2 linked regions of the Homo sapiens genome follow. The protein of the gene in region 1 purifies or fractionates together with the protein of each later gene. This does not show direct contact. Each region holds a gene or a part of one and is shown on either strand. Other genes may lie near its edges.

The links. Proteins that work in one complex are often made in the same cells at the same time.
Region 2: the proteins of ANKRD39 (region 1) and UBA3 purify together in Homo sapiens (affinity purification with mass spectrometry; one large-scale study listed by BioGRID and IntAct). This does not show direct contact.

What each region holds. Positions count from the first base shown.
Region 1 is NC_000002.12:96,851,517-96,855,016, forward strand, and holds part of ANKRD39 (ankyrin repeat domain-containing protein 39), read right to left. Parts: intron 2,926-3,500; coding exon 2,822-2,925; intron 2,089-2,821; coding exon 1,885-2,088; intron 1-1,884.
Region 2 is NC_000003.12:69,063,366-69,066,865, reverse strand, and holds part of UBA3 (NEDD8-activating enzyme E1 catalytic subunit), read left to right. Parts: intron 1-2,754; coding exon 2,755-2,798; intron 2,799-3,362; coding exon 3,363-3,427; intron 3,428-3,500. UniProt on the Homo sapiens protein: Catalytic subunit of the dimeric UBA3-NAE1 E1 enzyme. E1 activates NEDD8 by first adenylating its C-terminal glycine residue with ATP, thereafter linking this residue to the side chain of the catalytic cysteine, yielding a NEDD8-UBA3 thioester and free AMP.

The sequences.
Region 1 (3,500 bases):
CTGGACTCAAGCAATTAGCCTGCCTTGGCCTCCCAAAGGGCTGGGATTACAGGTGTGAGCCTTTGTGCCCAGCCAGGCTGCAACAATTTGAACAGGACAAAGCCCCAGCTGTCTCTACTGAGATACGCAGACCCCAAACAGGGAATTTCCAGGGGTACAGGAATTAGGAAAAGTTGAGTCCATGGCATACAGCTAGGCATACATCCAGGTGAGCTCACCATGTCTAGGGATCAGGAAAGGCTCTCGTGGGGTGTGATGTGTAAGCTGAGATCCAGAAGAAAGGGTAGAAACAAGCCACATAAAAAACGGGAGGGGAGAGGCACCCAGACAGGGGCTAACTTGTTAAATATGGCTCTGGGGGGACAGAGTAGTAGGTTCAAGAAAATTAAAATGGCTGGATGTGGTAGCTCATGCCTGTAATCCCAGCACTTTGGGAGGATTGCTTGGGCCCAGGTGTCGAGACGATAGTGAGAGACCCTGTCTCTACTACTACTACTAATAATTTTAAAAGCCTGGGCAATGTGGTGAAGCTGTTTTTAGAAAAATTAGCCAGGCATGGTGGCATGCACCTGTAGTCCCAGCTACTTGGGAGGCTGAGGTAGGAGCATTGCTTGAGCCCAGGAGGTCGAGGCTACAAGTGAGCTGTGATTGTGCAAGTGTACTCTAGCCTGGGTGAAAAAGTGAGACCCTGTCTCAAAAATAAAATAAAATAAAATAAATTAGCTGGTCATGGTGGTGCAGGCATGTATAGTCCCAGCTACTCAGGAGGCTGAGGTGGGAAGATCACTCAAGCCCAGGAAGTCGGGGCTGCAGTGAGTTATAATCATGCCACTGTACTCCAACCTGGGTGACAGAGTGAGACCCTGTCTCAAAAAAAAAAAAAAAAAAAAAGAGAAGAAAAAAGAAAAATTATTAGTAGGGCCTCTGAGTGTAAGAGACCAGGGGACAAGAGCTCAGGAGAAAACTGGAGGGGTGGGGAAAAAAGACAAAAAAGACAAAAAAAAAAAAAAAAAACCTGGAGAAGGGGGCAGGAGCAAACCCCAGGAAACCTTCACAATAACTCATGGACCTGGAAAAAGCAAGCCTCAAGGACTCCAAGTGGGGGCGTGGCATGATCAGAACTGCTTTAAACAATCGCTCCAGGAGAAAATCAAAGAAGGGGCAAGAGGGGACTAGATTTACACATGATTTACACACATATATGATTTATACACATATGCCACATATGCATAGACCGCCTCTCAAAGGTGCCTGCAAACTCAGTAAAGTGGCCGAGCAGGGTAGCTCACACCCGTAATCTCAGCACTTAGGGAGGCAGAGGCAGGAGGATCAATTGAGCCCAGGAGTTTGAGACCAGCCTGGGCAACACAGTGAGACCCCATTCCCCACAAAAAAGGAAAAGCAATCGGTAAAGTGAACACCTCAAAGGACGGGCCTAGAAGGCTGAGGGATGAGGAGCTGGGTGGGAGGGAAACTCGCTTTCATGGCATGCCCTTGTAGACTCTTCAGATTGTTTACCATGTGCAGGTATTTCCAGCTAGAAAGAGTTTAATTAAATGATCACTCCGGCTAACATATAGCAAGTGGACTACAGGAACAGGCAAGAGTATGTATAAGTTTCAGAAAACTATATGGAAAAGGCTTCATGACATGTCTCTAAGGGAAAGAAAACTAAAGTGCCACTGTACATTTTAATTTACACGCTCAGAAAAAAGGCTGGAGAATTACCCATTAGTCCTAAAGTGATGACAGGTGAGCAAGGGAATTACAAATGATTTTAACTGTCTTCTCTCTGATTTCCTGTTTTCCCCATGTTTTCTACATGAACATGTTATAACTTTAAAAATAAGGAAACGACATTTTTGGAAGGGGGAACGGGCCCACCTTATGCAGACTGGTCATGCCGTCGTCATCCACCACCCTGGGGTTGGACCCATGTGATAGCAGGAGCCGCGCGATTTCAGTGTGCCCGCAGTAGCTGGCTCGGTGCAGAGCAGTGGCACCCCCGTGGGTCTGGGCATCACACTTAGCTCCGCTTTCCAGCAGGAACTGGCACACAGCGTAGTGCCCATTGCGGCTGGCATAGTGCTGCAGGGAACAGAGACCGAGGTCAGATGGGAGAAGCCAGGCAGGTGACAAGGGTGGTATAGAGGTGAGAGCATGGCCTCCCTGCAGCGAGGGGCCTGGAATCATCTCAGGTGCCAACCCCAGCAGTCGTGTGACCTGGGCAAGCTTCTGCGTGACTAACCTGAGTTTGTTCAATTGAAAAATGGGGAAAATGATCATTCCTATCTCAAAGAATTGTTACGAAAATAAAACTAAATCATTGGCTGGGCGCAGTGGCTCATGCCTGTAATCCCAGCACTTTGGGAGGCCGAGGCAGGCGGATCACCTGAAGTCAGGAGTTCGAGACCAGCCTGGTCAACATGGTGAAAACCCATCTCTACTAAAAATACAAAAATTAGCTGGGTGTGGTGGCACATGCCTGTAGTCTCAGCTACTCAGGAGGCTGAGGCAGGAGAATCGCTTGAACCTGGGAGGCGGAGGTTGCAGTGAGCTGAGATCGCATCACTGCACTCCAGCCTGGGTAACAGAGCAAGACTTCATCTCAAAACAAAACAAAACCTAAATTATTGATGTAAAGGTCTCACACTAATTTAAAAAATCCAGGTTCATATGATGCTTAAAAAGAGAAATTTTGCTGGAAGAGAAGAAAGGGAGGGAGGAGGTAAAAGGTAACCATCAGTCCCCCTCCTCAGAGAGCAGGTGTCTCCTGAGTTAACGCTTCTGTCTCCTGACCCTGTGCTCCTCCCTAGCTCACCAGCGCAGTGTAGCCGGCCGAGTCGGGCTGACTTGGGTCCTCGGCCTTCTGGATTAAATGCTTCACTCGGCCCAGGTCTCCATTCAGGGCTGCCGACCAGATTCCTGCAGAAAGGCAACCAAAGGACTGAATGATGCTGAATGGGAGTTTCAGTGCTTGCTTTGCCTCTTGACCTCAGTTTTCTTGTCTATAAAGTGAAGAATATTCATTCCTTCAACAAATATCAACCGAGCACCTCCTCTGTGTCAAGGTTTGTTCTGAATGCTGGTGACTTAGCTGTGAACAAGACAGATGGGCACATCTCATCAGGACAGTAGGACTGGGCGGACACAGACATCTCCATCCCACTTCAAACACAGAAGTGCTGGATGAAGTAATGTTTAAAATGTTTGGATCTAGAGTGAAATTCAGGTCGGGCTGGGATTACAGGCGCCCACCACCATGCCCAGCAAATTTTTCTATTTTTAGTAGAGACAGGGTTTCACCATGTTGGTCAGGCTGGCCTTGAACTCCTGACCTCAAGTGATCCATTTGCCTTGGCCTCCCAAAGTGCTGGGATTACAGGCGTGAGCCACCGTGCCCAGCCAGAAACAACTTTTAAAAAATATAATGATGCCTCCAGAAGGCTGCCAAGGCAGTGTGACAATCTCCCACAGAAGAGGATCTCCCTGGTGAGCAC
Region 2 (3,500 bases), on another chromosome or scaffold:
CCAATGGAAGAAGCATAGTCTTCAACAAATCGTACTGGAGCAATTTCATATCCATAGTTAAAAGATGAATTTTGACCTAAACATACAAAATTAACTCAAAATGGATTATAGGTGTAAATATAAAATATAAAATGAGCCAGGCGTGGTGGCTCATGCCTGTAATCCCAGCACTTTGGGAGGCCGAGGTGGGTGGATCACTTGAGGTCAGGAGTTCGAGACCAGCCTGGCCAACATGGTGAAACCCCGTCTCTACTAAGAATACAAAAATTAGCCGGGCACAGTGGCTCCCAGCTACTCAGGAGGCTGAGGTGGGAGAATCGCTTGACCCTAGGAGGCTGAGGTTGCAGTGAGCTGAAATTGCGCTACTGCACCCCAGCCTGGGCGACAGAGCAAGGCTCCATCTCAAAAAAACAAAAAAAAACACAAAAAACCATAAAACGATAGAACTTTAGGGTTTGGTGGAGAGTGCTTAGGCCACGTCAAAAGCAAGACCTGTAAAAGGTGGGGTATGGTGGTGCAGATCACTGAGGAAGCAGTGAGCTTTTATCATACCACTACAGAGTCCTGGCTGCTTGGGAGGCTAAGGTGGGAGGATTGCTTGAGACTAGGAGTTTGAAGCTATAGTAGGCTGTGGTCATACTGTGAATAGCCACTGCATTCCAGCCTGGGCAATGTAGTGAGACATCATCTCTAAAAAATTAAAATAATTTTTTGTAAAAGCATGAGCCATAAAAGGAAAAAATTGATACACTGAACTTCATCAAAATTAAAAACTTGCTGTGTGAAAGACCCTCTTAAACGGATGAAGAAAAGCCACAGACTGGAGAAAATACTTGTAAAGCATCTGATGGAGGACTCATATCTAGAGTATATAATGAACTCTAAAAACTCAACAGTAAAACAAAAAAAAATTCAATTAGAAAATAGACAAAAGATAGGAAGAGATATTTTACTAAAAAGGATGACGAAAAGCACATGAAAAGATGTTTCACATCAAACTAAGACCACCATGAGCGATACTGTTACACAACTATTAGACTAAAAAAAAAAAGCCAGTCTCAAAAGGTCATATACTGCATGATTCTGTTTATATAATACTCTTGAAATTACAGAATTATAGAGATGGCTGGGTGTGGTGGTTCAGGCCTGTAATTCCAGCACTTTGGGAGGCTGAGGCGGGAAGATCACTTGAGCCTGGTTGTTTGAGAACAGCCTAGGCAACAAATGAGACCCTATTTCTGTAAAAACTAGAAAAATTACCCGGGCATGGTGGCACATGCCTGTAGTCCCAGCTATGTGGGAGGCTGAGGCAGGAAGATCAGTTAAGCCCAGGATGTGGAGGCTGCAGAGAGATCTTTATTGTGGTCGAATAGTTATGTGTGTTGCCTGGGGTGGTGGTTACACAAATCTATGTGTGTTTAAATGACAGAATTATAAACACACATTGTACCAATGTTCTGTTCATGGTTTTGGTACTGTACTATAGTAAGATGTAACTGGGAAAGGTGCATGGTACCTACCTATACTATCTGTGCAACTTACTGCGAATCTATATTATTTCAAAATAAAGAGCTTAAAAATGCAAATACAGGCCCCTGTAGGGAAAAAGGAAGAGTTGGTGGGGGTGGGTTGGTTAGTGGGGGGCACTCAGTTTGTCTATCCCCATTATGTGGGTCTGGGAAACTTTGGGTATTTTCTAGAAATCCAGATTAGATTTCTTAGTCTGGCTCTTGGTTCCCTGATTGCCATTCCTCCACTGTTTGCTTTGTTTCTTTTTTGACCTCTTTCTAGCTGTAGCTTCGTTCTCCTGCTTGCCTAGCATTCAAAGGGAATAGAGGTCTGAATGACTGAGGGCTAGAATTGAAATTATTGTTCATAGCTTTATTTGTAGGCAAGAATTAAAAATCTAGAGGAAGCATGTATTGTCCCTTTTTTCTATGTATTGTCCCTTTTTTCTCTGTATTGCTTTTAAAAAATTTATAGTGGACTATTTATCTTAACTTTAGAGAAGTTGCATAATTTATAAATTATTAAACAATTGCTCCATTCATTAGAAAAATTAAAACAAGTTTTTGCACACATGTGCTATTAAAACATTAAGTGCTATATTGACTCACCCACAATCAGTTTTGAATGGAGTTTCCTTTTTAGCCTCCAGGGATGGGAAGACTGGTAATAGGATTTGGTAGGGTAACTTGAAAACTGAGTTAAATGAGAAAGGTAGAAAAAATTCGTACTTTTTCTCCTCCCCACAAAAAATAAAAACAGTAAAATCTTTACCAACTGAAAAAGCTGTTGAAATTTTCTGTATGTTAAAAAAATGAGCTTTGCAGTAACTCTTAAAATCACCTAGCAAAATAGGAACTATAATGTGCATCTTTCCTTCACTAAAACATTTATTGCATCTCTTCTTGATGCTGATGATTGAGGACACACATTCTGCTTTCCTGGGGCTTATGGTTTTATATAAAAACCAAAGCAAAGTAGAAAGTATACCTCCTACCAAGGGCATAAATATAATGATATAGGGGTTCAGGAATGAGAAAAAGTAAGTAGTTAGGGGAGGAATGGCAGAAAAGTTTTGTCAGAAAGGAGAGTTGTGTTCATTTAGTCAGATTCCTTGAATTCCACTGATGTGAACATTGATTACTTATTTCTTGTTGTAAATATATGCAGAGTGTGTTCCTTATGGCATTGTCAAATTCATTTTAGAAATTAAAACTTAGCTGCTTAAGTTCCTTTACTTGTATTCAGACATTTCAACAAGATTCAAGATTTTAACGACACTTTCTATCGACGTAAGTTTTTTACTTGAAATTAATGCTCACTAGATTCTTAGAATTTTTTAGTTGGTAGCTATTCAAATATTGCTAGCTATTTCAAGGCTATTTCTTCACTTGCTTTCCTCTCTCACTGTTGGCTTTTCAGTAATGTTGCTGATAGACTGAAAAGAGAATGCTAGTTTTAGCTGACATGACCAGCTACAAGTTTCTATGCTTACCTGAATGAGAGTTCACTCAAGGAATTGGAGCTCTGAGAACGTATGTGGGATTACAGTAAAAAGTGCTTGTGGTTTTTTTGTTGGTTTCTTAGAACGTGCAAATTGTTTTCTGCAAGTGCTTTTTTTTTTTAATTAGTAAACTTTATTTTTTAGGGCAGTTTTATGTTCACAACAAAATTGAACAGAAAATTTTTGAAAACTTGGGTTCTCATAGAGCTTCCTGTTCCCACAAACACACTACCTTCCTAATCAACATCTTGCACCAGAGTGGTACATTTGTTGCAGTTGATGAATCTACATTGAAAGATCATCATGCAACTACATATTTAAAAACTAAAGTTGCTTTTTTTTTTTTTTGTAGAATTTCATATTATTGTATGTGGACTGGACTCTATCATCGCCAGAAGATGGATAAATGGCATGCTGGTAAAGACTTTAGTATTGTTATAGTTCTCTGAAGTTCTTGCTGCTGTGCTTCACATCCCCAAAATTAGAATTG